Homo sapiens: one gene and its partner. The protein of the gene in region 1 interacts with the protein of each later gene in a pairwise test. Each region holds a gene or a part of one and is shown on either strand. Other genes may lie near its edges. The genes, in order: SAMD12 and USP20.

Region 1 (11,152 bases):
CTCTGTGATGCAGTTCTGAGTTCAAGTTGGGTACAAAGTCATCATTTATGGGGCTGCAAAGCCCAGTGTTTACCGTGACTGCTTCTATTTGTCACAAACGTTTGACGCTATCTCATTTCCCATTTTCCCAGTCACCGTTATTATTACTTAGCCTTACAATATTTTGGTGATGTGTAGTTTCTTCACTCTTCTACAGGAGAAAAAACATAGAACCTGAGCACTGAATGACTTATCAGAAGATATTTGGTAAGCTACCATGTTCATTTATGATGGAAAATTCAGATCCCTTAATATAGATGTCATTAAGAGCACACAGTCTTGCATTTGACATGTTTTTCTTGGGGAGAGAGGTGAGTGCTGAATATTGGAAATCATTTTTCTGCCACATGAGAGGTGCTATTCTGTTAGACCTGGAATAGAAATTACCATGTACAATGTCCATCCTCCCTATTTTTTTCATAAATATCTGAGGACAAAGCAAGAAAAGGAATTGGGGATGAGGGGTAAAAAAAAAATCCTTCTCTAGCTCTGGAGACTCGTGCATTTATATGTCATTCATGAAACAATGACTGTGGGCCTCCTAAGTGCCAGGCGCCATCCCTGGAATACAGAGATGAATACAAAGATGAATACGACACTGTCCCCAATGAATCCACATTTTTCTTCTCCCTGAATAATATTGCAACCCATTTCTGTTAGAAAACATCAATAGGTTTAACCGTCTATACACAGTCTGTCCATAGAGAATGGATTAGTTTGGGGTCCCTGCTACCTCCTTCCAAGAGGTCCTAGTCCCCAGTCCTGCTAAATTATTTCACAAGACATTGTTTTTGTTTTTTTTTTTTTTAAAAAAAGGCAATGTATGCCAGTATAATCCTAATCCAAATGCAGACCATAAGGTCGTACCCTGTTCTGTGGCGGGAAAGCATACCTGTAAGCTGCCCATAAATGCAAAGCATGGGTCACAAGCAGACTAGGAGACATAAATAGGATGTTGCAAATAAACTAAGAAGAAAACATAACACAGGGTAGTTACAAAACAATAAACAAAGGGCACCTCTTTTTCATCTTAAACACACGGCTGCAGGTTCAGCAAAGTGAATGAGTGAACTACTTGCTAGTAACACTTTTACAAATTCAAGTTTACTTAAGAAAAAGTTACACATAGTAAAAAACCTTCTAATTTGTTACTAATTAGAAAAACTGGCTGGCATGAATAAGTGAAAATTCAGGATATAAAACACATGCCAAATAGTATAGCTTTTCCTAAGAGAAGGGATGAGAGTACAAGTGATATTTACTTAGGATGCAGGTTCCAGACACCCTTCTAGAAGCCCTCTCCTTTATTTAATCCTCACAATGAGCAGGGCACGGTGGCTCACTCCTGTAATCCCAGCACTTTGGGAGGCCGAGGCGGGCGGATCACGAGGTTAGGAGATGGAGACCATCCTGGCTAACATGGTGAAACTCTGTCTCTACTAAAAGTACAAAAAAATCAGCCGGGCGTGGTAGCAGGCACCTGTAGCCCAGCTACTCGGGAGGCTGAGGCAGGAAAATGGCGTGAACCCGGGAGGCGGAGCTTGCAGTGAGCCGAGATCGCGCCACTGCATTCCAGCCTGGGCGACAGAGCAAGACTCCGTCTCAAAAAAAAAAAAAAAAATCCTCACAATGTTCCCAGGAGGAAAGCAGTAGTGAGCCCATTTTTTCCAGATGTGGAGACTAAAGCTTAGAATGTTAAGCAATTCGAACTGTATTTTCTATTCCAGTTCCTCTGGCAAAACTCCTTATTCTCTGAAGCAGCATTTCTCAATAAGTTGGGTAAACTGATCATTACTTGGCCATGGCTTGGCCTCGTTATACGGGATGGCCATGCGCTGCAGGACATTTATTATCTGTGGCCATGGGCACAAAATACCAACAGCAGCCCCCAGCAGCAGTTCCTACATATCCCAAATGTGTCCAGGGACAATGTCACCCAGCAGTAGAGGTAAACTGTTCTAAAAGATTTTTTGGGCATCAAGACAAAAGACTGAAGAGAAGGGCACTTCGAGGTGGGCAGATCACGAGGTCAGGAGATCGAGACCATCCTGGCTAACATGGTGAAACTCCGTCTCTACTAAAAATACCAAAAAAATTAGCCAGGCATGGTGGCGGGTGCCTATAGTCCCAGCTACTTGGGAGGCTGAGGCAGGAGAATGGCGTGAACCTGGGAGGCGGAGCTTGCAGTGAGCTGAGACCGCGCCACTGTACTCTAGCCTGGGCGACAGAGCAAGACTCTGTCTCAAAAAAAAAAAAAAAAAAATCTCCCATCCTCAAATCTGTCAGAAATCCCTTATTGTATCACATTTAGGCTTCCAAGAAAGCCCCATGTACCCTTATAGAACCAGTTACAAAACCTCCATGAATATATTTGCCATGCAATTCATGAGCATTGAGTACCTATTATGGGCAAAGTACTGTGCTATGAGCTAGGAATATAAAGTCCAAGTCTAACCCCCAAGGGGGTTAGAGTCTAGTAAGAGGCAGATTAAGTATGATAAGTATTAAGATAAATGTGAGCAGGAGGCACTTCCCATAGACTGGAAAGAGTGCTGAGAAGGCAGAAGAAAAAGGAGGGCTGGGACAGTTTCCCAGAGGAAGTGACATTTTCCCAAAGGCTTGAAAGACCAAGTAGGAGTAACCAGGAAGGGACTGGTCCAGGCTGATATCTTTGCAAAGACCAAAGATAGGAATCATATTTGAAGTTAAAGTTTAAAATACTTCCTTCATTCTTTGAGACCTCATTGTGATTCAAACTCAGGATCTCCTGTTTACTAGACAGGTACTTTAACCAAGTCACTAGAAAATAAACTCTCCATAGTCCACATGTACTTCCTTCCTAAGTTCTTGTTTTTGTAAAGTCTGGCTTCACTGGTGTAATCACCCATCACGCAAGAAATAAGACAAATTTATACTTCTTACAGGGAACAAGAAATTGTTTTCGAGAACAGTGTGGACTAGCAACAAAGAGGAGTGTCCCTGTCTTGGGGACACAGGAGTGGTGAAGACGAGAGATCATAATCAGTGTCACCTGATGGGTGACATAGAACGGACACTTAAGGAGTAGGTCAACATATCCTTGGTCTCAAGCTCAAGATGAACTTTATCTCGGCTTTTGTTTTGTTCTTTGGCATCTGAAGTCTTGACTATCAAGCATAACGATGCAAAAAAAAAAAAAAAAAAAAAAAAAAGATTCTCACCCTACTGGTACATTTGCACAGAAAAGAAAACCTAGAAAAATCTTGATTGTAAGAGAGAGAGAGGATTTCATTTTTGTTAATAAAGTTAGGAAAGCTGGAAGTGGCTGGCTGTGGATCTCTGAACCTGAGATAGCCCAAAGGCAAGAGTTTCCCGAGTTTATGGGTGCTGAGTATAGGAGCTGGGTTGTTGCTACTTCAGGTTGTTAAGACAGTCGTTATAAGGGGAGCAAGAGTCAGATTAGTTCAATTTCTTTCTCCTGGGGCAGGGAGGAGAGGGAGCAGCAAGCCAGCCTCGTGGCCTTCTCGTCTCTAGCCTACAAGGAATAGGCTGATTTCCCCTTGGCAAGGCGCCTGAAGCAGCTGGCAGGCAAGCCCTCCTCTTCCTACTTCAGTACGCCCTCTGACCTGACTGCACTCAGAAACCAAAATTCTGCAGGTGAATGTAGGCTCCCATTTCGTCCCACAATCATTTCATCATTCAGGCACAGCTTGACCTCTAATGTGACATCACAAACCCTTCCGGTCCACAGTTTTTTTTTCTTCTTCAGAAACTACCTAAACAAGGAAGTTTGTGTTCCAAGGTAAGATAACCTGAAATGAAAAACTCAGGATCCCTCACGAACAGCCTGACCCTGCTTTCAACCAGGAAGTTCAAGGGAGGCAGGACTTTACGGTCAAAACTGCAAAGCCGAAGCTCAAGACTGTAAGAAGAAAGTGATCTTCAAAGAAAAGGATTCACCCAAATCGAAGAGGTTGTTGCACTTCTTTTCCCTGGCTGATTACATTTCATGTCTGTAAACTTTGCTAAGCCCGGGGCGCTGGCTGTATAAGCAGAGACAGGTGTAGGGACACCTCTACCCTCTGGGTACATCTGCGGCCGCCGCTGCTGGGTGCATAGGACGAAGGGCCCTCGACCCAATCCCAGTCCAAGCTTCCGGATGACGCACCTGGGCTGGGGACCTCTCCCACGTGAGGGGGGCCAACCAAGCATCCCCAGCCCCGGGGCCACCCAGCCTGCTCCGGAGGGAGGGGGCAGGGAAAAAGGGCATCTCGGGGCCAAAACCTCATGCCGGATCCTCCGGCTTTCCCCCCATTTCCAGGATATCGTTTCGCATCAGGGACACTCGTCTCCACACCTCCTACCTCAAAGTCCTACGCACCTACCCTTCACGTCTCTCCAAAGCAACTGAATTAAAGCGCCTACTGGCCTTGGCGGCGCAGGTGAGTGCCAAGAGGTGGAGGAGGAAGGGGCCCGCTCTCCGCCACCCCCTTTCCTCGCCTCCCCACGATCGCCAAGCTTCATCGGGGATGTGTGCCTTGGGGTGCGCGGGTTAAGAGGGAGCTTAAAAATGCCCCAAGCGTCCCTTACCTTCCACAGCCATTCTCTCAGAGCTTCCCTAACGCATGCATAATTTTCTTGGCCGAGGTACTCCTCCTGCCCCGCGCTCCCCCCTTCCTCTCGCTTTCGCCTAAATATTCTGCGCTTATCTGCTCCAGGACCAACCTGCCGCGGTCACGCAAAGCGAGGCAGCCGGCTCCCGGCTCGGCGCGCGCAGGGCGTCCTGGGAAGTGTAGTTCCCTCCCTTCGCTCGGACTGGGGAGAGCACCCCGACTCCTCCGCGGAGTGCCGCCTGGCCCCGACACTTGGAGAGCAACTCCAGCTTCAGCTGGCCAGGCCGAGCAATCTCTCCTGGGGAAGTTGTGAGGGGACCAGGGATGCCTGGTTGTGGCGGGGCGGGGGGGGAGGGGGGGGGGGTTCCCGGGAAGCGGTCTGGACTACATCTCCCAGGAGGCCGTGCGCTGAGATAGGTTCGCTGCTAAGAGTAGGGACCCGTGATTGAGCCCTTCCCTGTCCATTACAAGGGGTTTGGCACCTAGCAGGTGTGGTGAGGTGGGCAGGTGACGGTCAGCTGTGTGATGAGCTCCTGCGAGCTCGTCCGTGGGCCTCTGCCGCCGGTACCGCCCCGCCCCCTGGCCTCCTGAACCACCATTTAGTAGGGAGAGCAGGACCACTGTCCTCCTGTGTGGTTCTCCACCTGGGCCAGAGAACGCTGCCCAGGGTGAGGTTGAAACTTGTTCCTTCGCACCCTGAGATGTATGGGTTTTGTGGGGGAATTCCGACGGTTGATACAGTTGTCTTATCCTACAGGGTGGTTCAGGTGGCTAAATACTTGGCATGGGGGTGTAGGGGAGGAGGAGTGGCTTAAACCCCAATAGGCAACGTCCCCAAGGGGTTGTTAGGAACAAAGTCTGGGAGCCAGGATTGCACCGGAGGAGGTCAGATGAAAGCCTGTCTGGCTTCCAGGATAGGAGGCTTTCAATTTGCCTAGACTTGGAGCCTGTTGACAGCCTGTGATAGGGCCTAATAATTAACAGTGCCTGAGAATCAGGTTCCTTCAACTTCTGAACCTATGTCCTAGCTGTAGGTGCTGGGGATGCTATAAGCAGACATGATAATGGGAATCACGTGGATAGCAATACAATTCGACAGCTCGTAAAAATTAAGTTTCTAAACATTTTTTCCTGCGTGTGAAAATACGGATACAGTTGTGGCTGGAAGGGGTAAGGGAATAGCCTCGGGAATAAATCTGGCTCAAGACTGGATTGACTTTTAAAGGCCTTCAGTTTACAAATGTATTTGGTACCACATCCACCCAGTCACTCATATATAATGTTAATCTCTGTAAAATGAGGAAGTACAAAAATCGGATTCTTCCCATGATGACTACTTAGACATTTTTGTGTGTCTTGGTCATCAGCAAAAAAAAAAAAATGTTTTTCAAAACAATTTCGTTTCTCAGTGTATACATGCACACCTGTTGTTCTGGTCACTAATTACATGCTTAGTTCCCCTACTGGGTAATATATAATAATAATATGTGTATAGGTACTTTAAAAAATACCTGCGTGTAACCATTAAATGCTCTTGTTGATACTTTAATTCTGAGTCCATGGAGCTGTGTACAAGTCAAACCTAAGCCTCTCTTTTAGGTACAGTAGAGAGAGACCCATTCAGTGAGACATAATTTCCATGGGAAAAAGAATTTTCCGACCTAATACACAGCCAAGCATTCTAAACTCTGGAAAGAACTGAAATCCAGGTGCTTCACTACTTTATGTATATAAAATCACCAAAGTGTTAAGTATTTTCTGAGATTGAATGAATGTGAAAGAAAGCCATAGGACAGGTAGTATCAATGGTTCTCAACCTTGGCTGTGCATCAGCCTTCTACAAATATATATTCCTAAGCTTTTATCTTAGTCTCACAGAATCAGAGCTTATGGGGGTTTGGGTAGAGGCACTCAGGTTTTAAAAACCCACAGGTGATTCCAGTCTTCATTGAGGGTGAAAACCATTGGTCTGGTTCCAAGCTTTTAAATATCTGGGTGATATAAAAATATAAAAGTCATTGAAATCTGTGGTTAATTTTAAAACTTCATCTTAGCTCATCTTTAATATTTTTCCCAGTGATGTGCATTCTAGACGAGTTTTATTTTTAGTATAAATAAAATGTGAAGGAGATGTTAGTTTCTACCATATGAAATAGCCAATGTTTGACCATTTTTAAAACCTACAAATAGAACAATTTCATGTGGTTCTGCCTAATAAGGGATAAACAATAGTTGCGCAGAGGTTTTCAATTCTGGCTGAACATTAGAATCACCTGGGAAGTACTAAAAAAAAATTACATTTATCTCTAGAATGTTTGAAAGATAAAGACACAAAATACCAACCGTTGGCAAGATTGTGAAGCAATAAAGATTTATATATTGCTGGTGGTGTGCAAATTCACAAAACCACTTTGGAAAACCATCTGAAATATTCAGCTGAATATATGCTTATCCTGTGACCCAGAAGTTCTACTCCTAGGTTTACACCAAACAAATATGCATACAGATGTTCTCCAAAAGACATGTGCAAGAATGTTTGTGGCTGCATTATTTTAATGTTCCCAAATGGAAAACAACTCAAATATTTATCAACACAGATTGGAGAGATGAACTGTGGTATAACCAAATAATTCCATATAGCAGGGGTCAACAAACTAAGACCAATGAGCCAAATATGGCTCACCATTTATTTCTTATAACTCACCAGCTAGGTGTGATTTTTACATTTTTAAATGGTTGGAAAAAAAACAAAAAAAGTATAATTTGCAAAGCCTGGAAATTATAAAGACATACTTACATAATATCCTCAATTTTGCCTCTTGTCCTACAAAGCCTCAAATATTTCCTACCTGATCCTTTGCAGAAAAAAAGCTTTCCAAACCCTCCTATAAAGTAATGCAAATGAAGGAATTACAATTGTATACAACAACATGATGAGCCACATGTATTAATCGATTGCTGTTAACAAATTATCCCAATATTTAGTGGTTTACAACAATACCCATGTATTACTTCAGTTTCTGTGGCTCAGTAATTTGGGCACAGCTTAGCTTCTGCTTTAGTATCTTTCACAGACTGCAATCATGACTTATTTTTGGTCTTTTTTATCAGCAGCCAAGTACAGTTCCTAACAGATATACCCAATTTTAGCAAGGGGCAAAGTCCAGACCTCATCCCATACCTCTCATAAGCCAAATTCTGTGTTCATTATGATGCTATTGTTTGTTCCTTATAGTATATAAGCACTTCGAGTGCTGGAACTGAGTCTTATGCTTCATATCTTCCAGATTCTTGGTCATAATTGTGGTTACATAGTAAGTACTCAATAGATAATTTATTACTACTATTTTTTTATCCTTGTTATAAGTAGCATTTGTTGGGAAATTACAAGTGCCAAGCTCTGTCTAAGCATCTTGACATACATCATCTCCTTTAATCACTACAATATTGTCAGATATCACTATTTTCCAGATGAGGAAATTGAAGCTCAGTGAATTTAAGTAATTTGCCCCATGTCTCCAAAACATGAATTGTAGCAAGGGGATTGAGGTCTACCTAAGTGTAGAACTCTGTGATGTTACTCCATCTAGATTTCAATACTGATTACGTGATCACAAATCTGAATTCATAAGCACTTGGCCAAATAGGAATTGTCATTACTAATAAAATGAAGGGTTTAAAATATTTTAATATCAGAAATTGTGATATTTAGAATGATTCAAAAATTTCTGAATATATCAGAGAGCACAGAAAGGGAAGGAAAAGCCCATTACCTTATAGTGAATTAAATAAAAAAAGAAATATTGAGATGAGGCTACAGATTTCACTGGATTCTAAGATTTAAAATAGTACATATAAGTACTTTACTGTATTTATTGTTCTAACTCGGTTGCTATATTCACAAGCCTCTACAGAAAACATTCATAAATCTCAAAAAGTAAATAGATTATGTTTCTATTCTGTTCAGGGAGATCTTCTAAACCTAACCAAAAGGATTCAAACCCTAAAAAGTAAAATTTTTGACAGGAGGAACTGAGAGGAAAAAAATAATTTTTTTGTAATTAAGATAAAAAATACTAACTCTAATCCTTGAGTCATGAATAAAGTGCCAACCATTCAAGTTATATCAGGCTTCCATTGGAGGAAGTAAGCATATTTCAGGGAACATGATTTAAGCAAAAGCCTAGTTGTTTTTGCTTAAATCACATTGTGCATAATTAAATCGCATTGTGTGTTATCTGTTTGTTGATAAGTTGGTGATATTCTATACCATCGTTCGTCTAAACTATACTTTCAAAATCAGACTTAAATTATGTCTTCAAAATTTGAGCAGAATCTGTCTACCTTTATATTAACTGGTTATCTGAATATTTGGCTTCAGTACTCAAGTTTCGTAGACATACAGAACTAGATTGTAATCCTGACTCTCATTTACTCGATGTTGGTTATTAGCAAAGTTCTTTGACATTTCTGTGCCTTGGTTTTCCCACATGTATTGTAATGCTATTAATTGTGTAATGTATACATTACCTAGCTCACAGTTTGGGGCTCAGCAGTGACTGAGAGAGTATCTATAGTGTTGTGCGCTGTCCTGGCACATAATGGATGCCCAATAAGTGTTTGCTCTTTTGATCATCCATGGAAGCCTGAGAGGCCATTCCCAAAGAACATGGATATAATTCAGTTAAGCAGTAGCAAGGGCCTCAGGATATTTGCCAAGTGTGGAGTAAGTCTGCCCAGTCCGACTTGTAGTTAAGCCACTGAATGAACTTAACTTGATCAATGCAGAGCCTCCTCTGACAGGCAAGAAAACAGGGCTGTGCCATGGAAGAGCAGTGTCCTGGACACTTGTCCCTTTTTGGATAGGTTTTGTTGATAGAAAAGAGTGTGGGATTATTGTAGGCTCTAGTGGCTGACTGCATACAAACTTTCTGTGTTCTGGATTTCCAACCCTGAAGTATTAGGTTGGTGTAAAAATAATTGCAGTTTTTGCCATTTTTTTTTTTAATGGTAAAAACTGCCATTACTTTTGCACCAACCTAATAAATTTGCAGCACCTCTTCTGAGCAGAGTTGCCCCTACTTCCCCAACCAGGGGAAATTGTAAACTGTGTGTAAAAGCATAGGAATGGTCATCTGGAATTACTTGTCATTGGTACACATCAGCACAAGAGAACACTAGAAGAGATGCAACTTATTTTCACAACTGAACTATTCTATGCCAGATGTTTAAAAACTTAAGGTGTGATGGGCTCCCTTTTACTACTACTTCCAAAATGACCAGAAATCTTTACTAGGCAGAGATGCTAAAGCTGACCGCTTACTGTAGTTATTTGACCAGTCCTTTCCCTTCCCTTCTGTTCCTCTGTTAATAATTACCTAATAAACTTTATATTTTTAATCATTATATAGGGTACAGTGAGCCTTCACATACATTATTGCATTTTATCTTTACAATGGCTGTCAGTGGATAGTATTTACTTCATTTTATAGGTATGAAACAGAGGCTGGGCAAGGATGGATGATTAGCCCAAATTTATACACCCAGACAGAGCCTGAATTCAACACTTGAGACTTCTGCATTCAGTACTTTTTTCATTCCATCTCAATGTACTTTCTCATCAGGTGTAAAAGTGCCACTTACCCTATTGGCTTCCAAAAATATATTGAAATGCACTCTGACAGGAAGAATCTCATTTGATATCGGGAATTTCAACAAAATCCCACCTTATTTGGGCAAAAGAACTCTCTAAGAGTGAAACTTTTCTTGAATGAGCTTAAAGTACAGTGATCTTAATGGAAGATTTTAGCTAGAAGATATTCATCTTCAGTACTCTTCAAGTCTAAGCTACGGTTTTCTCTCACTAAGACCACTACTAATTTCAGTAGTTTACTAATTAGTCTATCTGCATACAATTCTTCCCCAGTGTGGCTTCTCTCCACCAGCAAACAGAATGGTATGACCCAAATCTAATCATCTCACTCCAATTTGAAGTCATTTGATTGCATCCCTTTACTCTTTGGTTAAAGCCTACAAGCCCTAGCAAAGTTTTTCTTAGGCTCCCATTCTGGGTTAGTTTTCTCCACAACACTCATATCAGTTTGTAGGAATATATTTATTATTTTCATTTAAATAGTGTCAGTATCCCCACTAATTCCATCGGATTAAGAATGGACTCTGATTTTGCTCCCCTTTGATCTTCCAACCACTAGCACTGTATCTGGCCCAACAATACATACTTAATACATGTATTATGTATCTGTAAGTACTGTCTGACTGAAGGAGCACATGAGTAAACTACCTAATCATAAATGTGTTTATTTTTCCCAATTAAACTGCAGGTTAGTATTTTGTTTGTGTTTGTGTTAATGTTTTATACTCTTAGAAGTAGGCTTTTTTTTTCTAACCTAGAATCTGTTCAGAAAGGACTTAGAGGCAAGTTACTCTAAGTCCTATCATTTCACAGTTGAGGCAGAAAACCAAAAAAGTTTGCCAGGATCACATCATAGCAGAACAATGTC
Region 2 (11,119 bases), on another chromosome or scaffold:
AAATAATAATAATAATAATAAAAAAATAAGGTAAGATAGATAAGATGAGATAAAATAAAAATGCCCTGTCTCTGGGAGTTAGGGCTTCGCAGATGAATTTTGGAGGATACAATTTTCTCATAACTGGTAGGAGCCTTCTAGTCACCTTCAGGAGTTTCTGGGTCCAGGGCCACTGTGCTCCCTGTGCGAGCACTCAGGGCTCCCCGCTATGCAGCCCTTTCTAAACTGCCGCATGCCTCATTTGCTCTCCTGACCTGGCTCTCTCTCCCCTGCACCCAGCCCGCCGCTGACTCAGTTCTTCTTGGAGTGTGGCGGCCTGGTGCGCACAGATAAGAAGCCAGCCCTGTGCAAGAGCTACCAGAAGCTGGTCTCTGAGGTCTGGCATAAGAAACGGTGAGCAGCTGCATCCCTAGCCTTGGGCGGTGTGTGGGGACTGGGGTTTCCTGTCAGCACCCATGATTGAGTACTTCCTGTGGATTCAGCCCCCAGCGAGGACTTGCCTCACTTTGTCCCGGGTAATGCTTGCAGCAAGCCTGCGGGGTGGAAATTGCATCCAGTCCTGTTTTACAAATAGGGAAACTGAGGTGCAGAGCACTTTAAGTATCTTGCTCAAGGTCATAGAACCTGCAAAAAGTGAGCTAGAATTTGACCTACTGTTGACCCTACCGAGCAGCCACTGGTAGATGTCTTTGCCAAGAGACATGGTGACCCGGCCTCAGCCAGGACTGTGTGTGTAGAAGGAGGTGTGGGGCAGGGGAGCACAGACTGGATGGAGCTTCTGGCACAGTATGAAATTAATTTAAAGATCAGAGTCTGTGATTAGATCTGTTTCTCCAGGAAAAGTCAAAGTTGGGAATAATTTTAAATGAGCACATAGAAATATGTATTATGTGTAGAAGCGGATGAAAAACCAGCGTAGGGCCAGGCGCAGTGGCTCACGCCTGTAATCCCTGCACTTTGAGAGGCTGAGGCAGGTGGATCACGAGGTCAAGAGATCGAGACCGTTCTGGCCAACATGGTGAAACCCCGTGTCTAATAAAAATACAAAAATTAGCTGGGTGTGGTGGCGTGTGCCTGTAGTCCCAGCTACTCGGGAGGCTGAGGCAGGAGAATCACTTGAACCTGGGAGGCGGAGGTGGCAGTGAGCCGAGATCGCACCACTGCACTCCAGCCTGTTGACAAAGCGAGACTCTGTCTCAAAAAAAAAAAAACAAAAACAAAACAAACCAGCATGGGAGAAATATGTATTAAATGTAGAAGCAGATTAAAAACCAGCGTGGGGCCAGATGCAGTCACTGACACCTGTAAATCCAGCACTTTGGGAGGCCGAGGCAGGAGAATCATTTGAGCCTAGGAGTTTGAGACCGGCCTGGACAACACAGCAAGACCCCGCCTCTACAAAAACTACAAAATTAGCTGAGTGTGGTGTGAGCACTTGTGGTCCCAGCTACTCAGGAGGCTGAGGTGGGAGGATCGCTTGAGTCCAGGAAGTTGAGGCAGGCTGCAGTGAGCTTGATCATGCCATTGCACTTCAGCCTGGGCGACAGAGTGAGACCCTGTCTCAAAAAAAAAAAAAAAAAAAAAAAAGTCTGTGTGCAGTGGCTCACTCCTGTAATCCCAGTACTTTGGGAGGCCGAGGCGGGTGGATCGCAAGGTCAGGAGTTCGAGACCAGCCTGGCCAATGTGGTGAAACCCCGTCTCTACTAAAAATACAAAAATTAGCTGGGCATGGTGGCGCGCACCTGTATTCCCAGCACTTTGGGAGGCTGAGACAGGAGAATCACTTGAACTCGGGAGGCGGAGGTTGCAGCAAGCCAAGATCATGCCACTGCACTCTAGCCTGGGAAACAGAGCAAGACTCTGTCCCAAAAAAAAAAAAAAAAAAACCCAGCATGGTACAATATAATTCCGCTTGTGTAAGAAGCCAAGTTTAAATGTGTATCTGTATGTATTTTTGTATATGCATCTGTAGTTTCACAGAACCAGAAATCTAATGGTAAGTATCTGGTGCCATTGGTGGTGGTGTTTTTCTCTTGTACTTTTCTGAAATTTTAGATTTGTCAATAATGAACATGTCTTACTTTTGAAATGAGAAAACCACAGTAAGTGTTTCAGAATGAAAACAAATCATGTTTAGGCGAGTTTGTTGTGCACCAGAAGGAAATGATGCTATTTTATTTGAGCTCTTTGCTTAATTGAGGCAGCTATGACTTGACATTTTCTTCTTGTCTGTAGAGATGTGTGAGCCTCTTGGGGCTCCTGGCTGAGTAGGCCCCTCCCCAAATGTCAGGAAACGCCACACTCTGATCCAGCCTGACGGGCTGGCTGCCTGCTTCTCTCGGGAATGAGCAGCTCAAGGCAGGCTACCTGGACTAATGGGTTTGGGCTTCCTACAGGCCAAGCTACGTGGTCCCCACCAGTCTGTCTCATGGGATCAAGTTGGTCAACCCAATGTTCCGAGGCTATGCCCAGCAGGTAAGCCATCTGAGCTGCCCAGGGGACACCCAAGGCCATGACCCACCAGGCCTGACTTTGACGCCAAAACCAGAGTGGAAAATCGCAATGGCAGCTGAGCACTGGTTGGCAGGTCTCACGGACCAGGCTCTCACTCCTAAGCCCTTCACACGTGTGAGGACAGTGGAGCCTCCCAGCAACCTGCTGACATTTAACCCCACTTCACAGATGGACAGACTGAGGTTCAGGGGCCGAGCCACTTGCACAGGCCACACAGCTAGTAAATGGTGGAGGGGAATTCTTTTTTTTGTGGGGGAGGGTGGGTACAGGGTCTCACTCTGTCACCCAGGCTGGAGTGCAGTGGTGCAGTCATGGCTTACTGCACCCTCGACCTCCCGGGCTCAAGCAGTCGTCCCACCTCAGGCTCCGAAAGTGCTGTGATTATAGGCATGAGCCACTGCACCCGGCGGAGGGGAGATTTGAACCCAGGCAACCTTGCTGCAGGGCCTCCGCGTTGCACCCAAAATGACACAGGGTTTCATTTCCCCAAACCACAGGCAAAATTTCACTTTTATTAAAGTAAAAAGTTTGATTAAAAATTTTTTTTAAATCTAGAGAACCCTTTTGAAACCAATCACATTTTTCTATTTTATAAAATAATGAGACCAAGACAGAGTGCAGCCACGCGTACACCTCAGCCCCGGGCTGATGGCTCCTGCCCTCCAGCCTCCTGCCCCAGATGGCCCACAGCCTGGGCTTTCATGCCAGGCCTGCAGGCAGAGCTGGACCTGGCTGGGTCACCTCTTGTGCTGCCTGAAATGAGCACCATGGACGGAGTGGCAGTCATGTGGGGACAACTTCCGCCCTCTACCCCCTGCCTGCTGTCCCGTCCCAGGATGAAGTCTGCTGGGCCTTTGGCTCCTGCTTGAGAAGCTCAGCACTGCCTGGACACCTCTCTTTTTGGGGAGTGATAACATGCACAATGACTAAAATTCACTGAGCACCATTTAAGTGGTCACAACTTAGTCCTCATAGAAGTCTCACAAAGTGGGCACTGTTGTCACCCACACGTTACAGGTAAAGAGCTGAGGCTCAGAGAGGTTCTACCCCTCACCCAGGTCACACAGCACATCCTGGCAGAGATGGCATTCAGGCCTACCTGAGCCCATCCCTCAGCACAGCACCACCCTGACTGTGTGCAAGGCGCCCTGCCGGCTTTCAGCTCTGGGTCAGGATGCCGTTACGGAGGGCCATGCGCTGCGGCAGGACTCCATCTGGGCTCCGGCAGAAGCATCCCTTTCTGTGGTTTTAGGATATCGTGTGGGGACACTTCTGAGGCTGAACTGTAGACGCAGCTGCGGGCGCCTCTTAAGGGCCAAAAGACTCTTTTGTGCTTCTGCATGGATTGAGATTTTGGCAAGGAACACATAGTACTTTTGTTGAAAGGAAGAACCAGAAAGAGAAGTAGATGGCAGATTGAAAGCCTCTTCTTGAAAGGGCCTTTGATCGTGCCTGCCACAGGACACGTGTCCCCTCCCTGATGCAATGTAACCTCGTGGTTCATTCCTCTGATCTTGGAGCCTGACACTTTGCCTTGGGGAGTCCCTCCTGAGCCCTCCCTTCCCTGCACATGAGTGGAGAGAGCCGGGATCCTCTTCCCAGATGTGTGACATGAGGCTGGCTCTGGCTGCTACGTGACCCCTGCCTCCTGGGGATCAGAGCCTGGGCTGAGGGCTGCTTCTAACAACCAGGTCAGGGACTGCTGGGGCTGATTTGGGCTCGGAACCCAAGTCCTTCTCCAATGCCCAGCACCACCCGAGCACCCGCTAGCTGCTGGGGTCTGCTGCCACCACCACGTTCTGACCTCCCAGTGCACCCCCTGTGTGAGCACACAGATCTCAGTGGGGCTCACTGGGCGCCTCTGCCCGAGCCCCTGCTGCCTTGGCTTCCTGCTGTGCTGGTGGCCCAGTCACAGAGTGGTCAGGATAAAATGGTCATTGCTGGGATTTGAGACCCAGGCAGCCTGCAGGGGCAGCTTAGACTGAGTCATGACCAGGTCTGTGGGAAGGTGAGAGCAGGCAGTGAGGGTATGTGGGGGCTGGCACAGGGACTGAGGGAGCAGGGGGAGCCAGAGGAAGGGTAGAGCATGCAGGCAGTCTGGCCTGTGGGTAGCGTGGCTTGGGGCAGGACTCGGGTGAGTCCTCTTTTGGCATCACACTCCCTCATCCTTCCGCCACCCCCCTGCCCACCTCCACTGGTCTCATCTGTAGGGAGAAAGGTGGCTCGGGCTTAATGTGGTACTGCCTCTCTGTCCCTCCCGTGCTGAGCTTGCAGCAGAGGCAGGAGATTCAGAGCCGGAGCCGGGGAGTTGCATGGACCCAGGTGCATACCTGGCTCTGACACTTTCTAGCTGTGTGTCCTGGTAGGTGTCCTTTAGCCTCTCCAGTCCTCACTGTTATCCTCAGAAGAATGGGGTTAGGACAGACTGCCATGGGAGGCCGCTGTGGGGGTGAGCAACTCTTCTGCAGGGGGCGCCCATGAGGTCCTCCTAGATGGAGGCTGGCGCTCTCATCAGCCACAGGGCGCTGGAGACTGGTTCCTCCTGCCTCCAGGGGAGCCCTGTTGATGCAGCCCCTGGTTCTAGGACACCCAAGAGTTCCTTCGCTGCCTGATGGACCAGCTGCACGAGGAGCTCAAGGAGCCGGTGGTGGCCACGGTGGCGCTGACGGAGGCTCGGGACTCAGATTCGAGTGACACGGATGAGAAACGGGAGGGTGACCGGAGCCCATCAGAAGATGAGTTCTTGTCCTGTGACTCGAGCAGTGACCGGGGTGAGGGTGACGGGCAGGGGCGTGGCGGGGGCAGCTCGCAGGCCGAGACGGAGCTGCTGATCCCAGATGAGGCGGGCCGAGCCATCTCTGAGAAGGAGCGGATGAAGGACCGCAAGTTCTCCTGGGGCCAGCAGCGTACAAACTCGGAGCAAGTGGACGAGGACGCTGATGTGGACACTGCCATGGCTGCCCTTGACGACCAGCCCGCGGAGGCCCAGCCCCCGTCACCACGGTCCTCCAGCCCCTGCCGGACGCCAGGTATCAGCTGGCCGGGGACTGCGGGAGGAACCTCAGCCTATGGCCCAGTACCTACCGGGTGCTGAGCGCCGACCTGCAGTAGCCCCCGGGGGACGGGTTCTTCACTAGACCCGAATGACAGTGGGGAAGTCAGCCTCCGGGGGGGCTCAGTGATGTGCCCAGGGTCCCCTAGCTCATAATGCTGGAGCCCAATTCAGAGCCCTCTCCCAGAGCCCTGAGCCTTCCAGCCGGACATGGATTGGACAGGTCTGCTCCGGCCTGTGTGCTGGGGCCAGGAGTGGGCACATGACAGAGGAGACACATTAGGGTCAGGCTTTCGTCCCTTTAGGAGGGGCTGGCAGGTCATCTTCCTGCCCACTCGTGGAGCTGGCCTGGCTGCCCTGGCCCAGCATGGTACCCTCTCTGCCCCCAGAGCCGGACAATGATGCTCACCTACGCAGCTCCTCTCGCCCCTGCAGCCCCGTCCACCACCACGAGGGCCATGCCAAGCTGTCTAGCAGCCCCCCTCGTGCAAGCCCCGTGAGGATGGCACCGTCGTACGTGCTCAAGAAAGGTTCGGGGGGCACGGGAGGGTGGGTCAGCTTGAGGCTGGGAGTACAGATTACGCCCGTAGCTGCCTTTCTCATGGCCCCCTGTGGCGGAGGGCCGGGCTATGGGCTCCTCTCAGGTACACCCCTGAGACACCAGTGTGGGAGCCACGTTTTGCAGAGGATGACACAGAGGCATGAGATGGTGAATTGCTTACCCAGTCATGTGACTCACGGATGTCACTCCACATCCTGTCAAAGGAAGCCGCAGGGCCCGCACCTCGCCCCGGCCAGGCAGGTGGAGGCTGGGCTAGTCCTGTGCTGTGTCCCCAGCCCAGGTATTGAGTGCTGGCAGCCGGAGGCGGAAGGAGCAGCGCTACCGCAGCGTCATCTCAGACATCTTTGACGGCTCCATTCTCAGCCTTGTGCAGTGTCTCACCTGTGACCGGGTGGGTGCCCCAGGGATGGGGGGAGCTGGGCCAGGCTGCCAGTGGCCTCAGCAGCTCTTGCCCTGACTGGGTGCAGGGTGGGCTCTCCACGGGTGCTCCCTGCTTTTATCCAGGGGAGGGCCCTGCCTGCGTGGATCCCGTGTCTATGGCCTGGGGAGTAGTCCCTCTGCCCCTCACCTGCTGCTTGGGGTTTGGGGTGCAGACATTGCCAGAGGATGGGCAGCAGACTGACCTTCAACCCCACAGGTATCCACCACAGTGGAAACGTTCCAGGACTTATCACTGCCCATTCCTGGAAAGGAGGACCTGGCCAAGCTCCATTCAGCCATCTACCAGAATGTGCCGGCCAAGCCAGGCGCCTGTGGGGACAGCTATGCCGCCCAGGGCTGGCTGGCCTTCATTGTGGAGTACATCCGACGGTGCGCCCACCTTGCCACTACTGGGCGACATGGGCTGGGCCTGTCCTGGTTTTCCTGGGCGGGAGACAGTACACAGTGAAGTCCATGCATTTGGGGAACCAGGGAGGTCCTGGGAGGAGCTGGGGGCCGAAGCCTGCAGAGGAGTTGGCTTAATATGCAGGGGATTTCTTGGCTACTTTGAAGTGGCCAGGATTGGATAGTCCCTTGGAGCTGGAGGGCGATGGACAGCAGGGAGGTGACCACATGGCAGGTTGAAGGGAGGGCAGCAGCAGGACACAGGCCTGGTTGGCGGGAAGGGCAGCAGCTTTCCCAGGGCTGCCTCTCCTGCCTGAGGCCAGAGACCCGCATGACCCCAGGGAGGGGGTAGCATGATCATGGCCGCAACACAGATGAAGGAGGCCAGGCTTGCGGAGAGATGATGTCACTCGGCCCAGGACACGGACGTGTCTGGCTCCAGGCCTCTGCCCCGACCCGCCGTGCCCGGCTGCTTCTCTGGGCCTTCAGGGTCCTTCTGCGGCTCAGGCCTGACAGACCTCAGCCAGAGTCCCTTCAGCTCCTGTTCTTGCCCAGGCCCTGGCAGCACCCCTGCACTCCTTTTCTGTCTGTAGGTTTGTGGTATCCTGTACCCCCAGCTGGTTTTGGGGGCCTGTCGTCACCCTGGAAGACTGCCTTGCTGCCTTCTTTGCCGCTGATGAGTTAAAGGGTGAGGGGCCTGGCTGGCAAGGGTCGGGGAGGTGGAGGGTTGTGGGGACGGGGATGTGCAGACCCCAGCAGGCCAGCATGCAGCCCAGGGCTTGTGGGATGCACAGCCAGGCTAGACTTGGCTTCCAAGGTTGATCCCATCAGATACCCACGCCCACTGCCAGCCACGCTGGACCAGGGCCATGTGCTATCCCAACCCCATCATCTTGCAGCTCTTGAGTGTTCACTTATTTTTATTTTTACCAATTTGGTGGGCAAAAATGATGTATGTTAATTTTTCATTTCCTTGATTACTGATGAGTTTCTACATTTTTTGTTAAATATACTGGCTCTATGTATTTATTTAAACATTGCCCATTCCTGTTCTTGTTCTTTTTCTCCGTTGGCTATTTGGCATCTAAACCTTTGGGAAAACTCTCTCTTTTTTTTTTATTTCCAATTTTCAATTGCGATAAAATACACAAAATGTAAAATTTACCACCATAACCATTGTAAATGCTGTTTTTAACAGAAAGTGCACAGTCGAGTAGTGTTAAATACATGCACATGGTCACGCAGCCATCCTCCCCATTCATCTCCAGAACTTTTACATCTTGCAAACCTGAAACTCAGTATCCGTGAAACAGCTCCCTACTCCCACCTCCCAGCCCCTGGCAACCTCCACATTCAAGTCTGTGAATGTGACTACTCTAAAGGCCTCATAGAAGTGGAATTATACAGTACTTGCCATTTTGTGACTGACGGCTTTTACTGAGCATAACGTCCTTAGGGTTCATCCACGTTGCAGCGTGTGTGTCGGAATGCCCTGCCTTTTGTATGCTGGTTATTTATTGTTCCATTGTGTGGATGGCTGGGGCCTTTCTGCTTATTCGTTCATCCGTCAGTGGACACTCAGGCCGCTTCCCTGTTAGCTATTGTGAGGAATGCTGCTCTGACCATGGGTGTGCACACCTCTCTTCTTTCATCCCTTTGGGTCTATGCCTATTTTTAATTTCTCGAGGAGCCACCGTACTGGGTTCCACAGTGGCCACCCCATTTCACATTCCCACCAGTGACGCACAAGAGTTCCAGTTTCTCCACATCGTCGTCCACACTCATTTTGTTTACTTTTTTGATGGGAGTCAACCTCATGGGTATGAGGTGGTATCTCATTGTGCGTTTTTTTTGTTTTGTTTTGTTTTGTTTTTGAGACGGAGTCTCTCTCTTGACGCCCAGGCTGGAGTGCAATGGCATGATCTCGGCTTATTGCAACCTCCACCTCCTGGGTTTAAGCGATTCTCCTGCCTCAGCCTCCCGAGTAGCTGGGATTACAGGCACATGCCACCACGGCTGGCTAATTTTTGTATTTTTAGTAGAATGGGGTTTCACCATGTTGGCCAGGCTGGTCTTGAACTCCTGACCTCAGGTGATCCGCCTGCCTTGGTCTCCCAAAGTGCTGGGATTACCGGCGTGAGCCACCGCACCCAGCCTCGTTGTGGTTTTGATTTGCATTTCCTAATGATAGTGATGTTAAGTGTCTTTTCATATGCTTGTTGGCCATTTGTAAGTGTTTGGAAAAACATCTATGTGAGTCTTTTGCCTATTTTGTTTTTTGTTGCTTGTTATAGGGATTCTTTTTTTTCTTGAGACAGAGTCTCACTCTGTCACCCAGGCTGGAGTGCAATGGCATGATCTTGGCTCACTGCAGCCTCCGCCTCCTGGGTGCAAGCAGTCCTCCCATCTCAGCCTCCCGAGTAGCTGGGATTATAGGCACGTGCCACCACACCTGGCTAATTTTTGTATTGTTAGTAGAGATGGGGTTTTGCCATGTTGGCCAGGTTGGTCTCGAACTCCTGACCTCAAATGGATTTGCTGCCTTGGCCTCCCAAAGTGCTGGGATTACAGGTGTGAGCCACGGTGCCGGCCTCGTTAGTTAGAGGAGTTCTTTATGTGTCCAGATACGTGACTTATAACCCTGTCCTCCCATCCTGTAGGGTGCGTTTCATTCTGTGGTTTGTGTCTTTTGCTTTGGTTGCCTGCACCTTTGGTGTTGTGTTTCAGAGATCATCGCCAGATCCAATGTCATGAAACTTTTTTCCTACTTTTCTCCTAAAAGTTTTATAGTTTTAGGTCTTATATTGAGATCTTTGATCCCATTTTGACTTAATTTTCACAGTGTGCATGGAGGGGGAAACTATACATTAAGATTTTAAGCTGGTCATGGTGGCATGTACCTGTGACCCCAGCTACTCCGGAGGCTGAGGGTCCTCTGAGCCTAGGACTTTGGGACCAGCCTGGGCAACATAGCAAGACCCTATCTCAAAAAAATTGTTTCAAATACATTTTCTGTAATTAATGTTGCACTTCCCACCCCACCTCCATTTTGCCTTTTGCCTTTTAATTTTGCTTTTGGTGGTATCTTACAGATGTTGAAGTATTTCTGGGGTCAAATATAACCATTTCTCCCTTGTATGGATTCTGGCTGTGGGGCCCAGCCAGGGCCTTCCCTCCCTCCAGTACCTCTCAGGTTTTATTTCTTTTTCTTTTTCTTCTTCTTTTTTTTTTTTTTTTTTTGAGATGGAGTTTTACTCTGTCACCCAGGCTGGAGTGCAGTGGCATCAGCTCACTGCAGCCTCTGCCCCGAGCCCCCCAGGTTCGAGCGATTCTCCCACCTCAGCCTCCTGAGTAGCTGGGATTACAGGCACGCACCACCACGTCCAGCTAATTTTTGTATTTTTAGTAGAGATGGGGTTTCGCCATGTTGGCCAGGCTGGCCTCGAACTCCTGACCTCAGGGGATCCGCCCGCCTCGGCCTCCCAAAGTGCTAGGATTACACGCATGAGCCACCATGCCCAGCCAGGTTTTATTTCTTAAGCAGAAATCATTATAGTCACTTTTTTTTGCTCCCTCATTTTGCATCCTTGCTAACCTCTGACCCTTTGTTTTACTGCCCTAGGTGACAACATGTACAGCTGTGAGCGGTGTAAGAAGTAAGTGAGCCTTCCCCCGCCTTCTCCCTAACTGCCGTTTCTGTGCCCTACATATTCCCCTTGGGTTCCTGCAGAGAGCCCCCTATAATCCTGCCTTCCCAGAAGGGAGCCGGGTGGAGGGCTGCTTCCCTGGCCCCTGGCCCTGATGCCGGACACTGATGCTGGCTCGTGCTTCCTCCCCAGGCTGCGGAACGGAGTGAAGTACTGCAAAGTCCTGCGGTTGCCCGAGGTGAGCCAGTGGCCTCGGCAGCCTCCTCCTCAGCTATCTCGGGATGCACACCAGCACACACCAGGCAGGGGCTGAGCCTGCTCCACTGCTCGGGCACTTCTGTGCTGCAGGGGCCGTGGAGACTCCATAGCTTTGGCTGAGAAACCTCTGGGAAGGGTTGGCAGGGGGCACATTTTTCCAACTGTGACTTGGTGCCCTCTCTCGGTAGCCTCAGCACATGTTGTCTAACATGTTGTATGAGGGCCCAATGGGAGGCAGGTGTGTGGGACACTGGGTTACCA

What was found.
Region 2: the proteins of SAMD12 (region 1) and USP20 interact in binary tests that used the Homo sapiens proteins (3 or more experiments, as listed by UniProt).

What each region holds. Positions count from the first base shown.
Region 1 is NC_000008.11:118,617,196-118,628,347, forward strand, and holds the start of SAMD12 (sterile alpha motif domain-containing protein 12), read right to left. Parts: upstream 4,769-11,152; 5' UTR 4,622-4,768; coding exon 4,609-4,621; intron 4,461-4,608; exon of another isoform or gene 4,340-4,460; intron 3,992-4,339; exon of another isoform or gene 3,806-3,991; intron 1-3,805.
Region 2 is NC_000009.12:129,862,907-129,874,025, forward strand, and holds part of USP20 (ubiquitin carboxyl-terminal hydrolase 20), read left to right. Parts: intron 1-279; coding exon 280-393; intron 394-2,396; coding exon 2,397-2,475; intron 2,476-5,098; coding exon 5,099-5,543; intron 5,544-5,955; coding exon 5,956-6,096; intron 6,097-6,403; coding exon 6,404-6,519; intron 6,520-6,698; exon of another isoform or gene 6,699-6,765; coding exon 6,766-6,938; intron 6,939-7,546; coding exon 7,547-7,641; intron 7,642-10,575; coding exon 10,576-10,609; intron 10,610-10,792; coding exon 10,793-10,838; intron 10,839-11,119.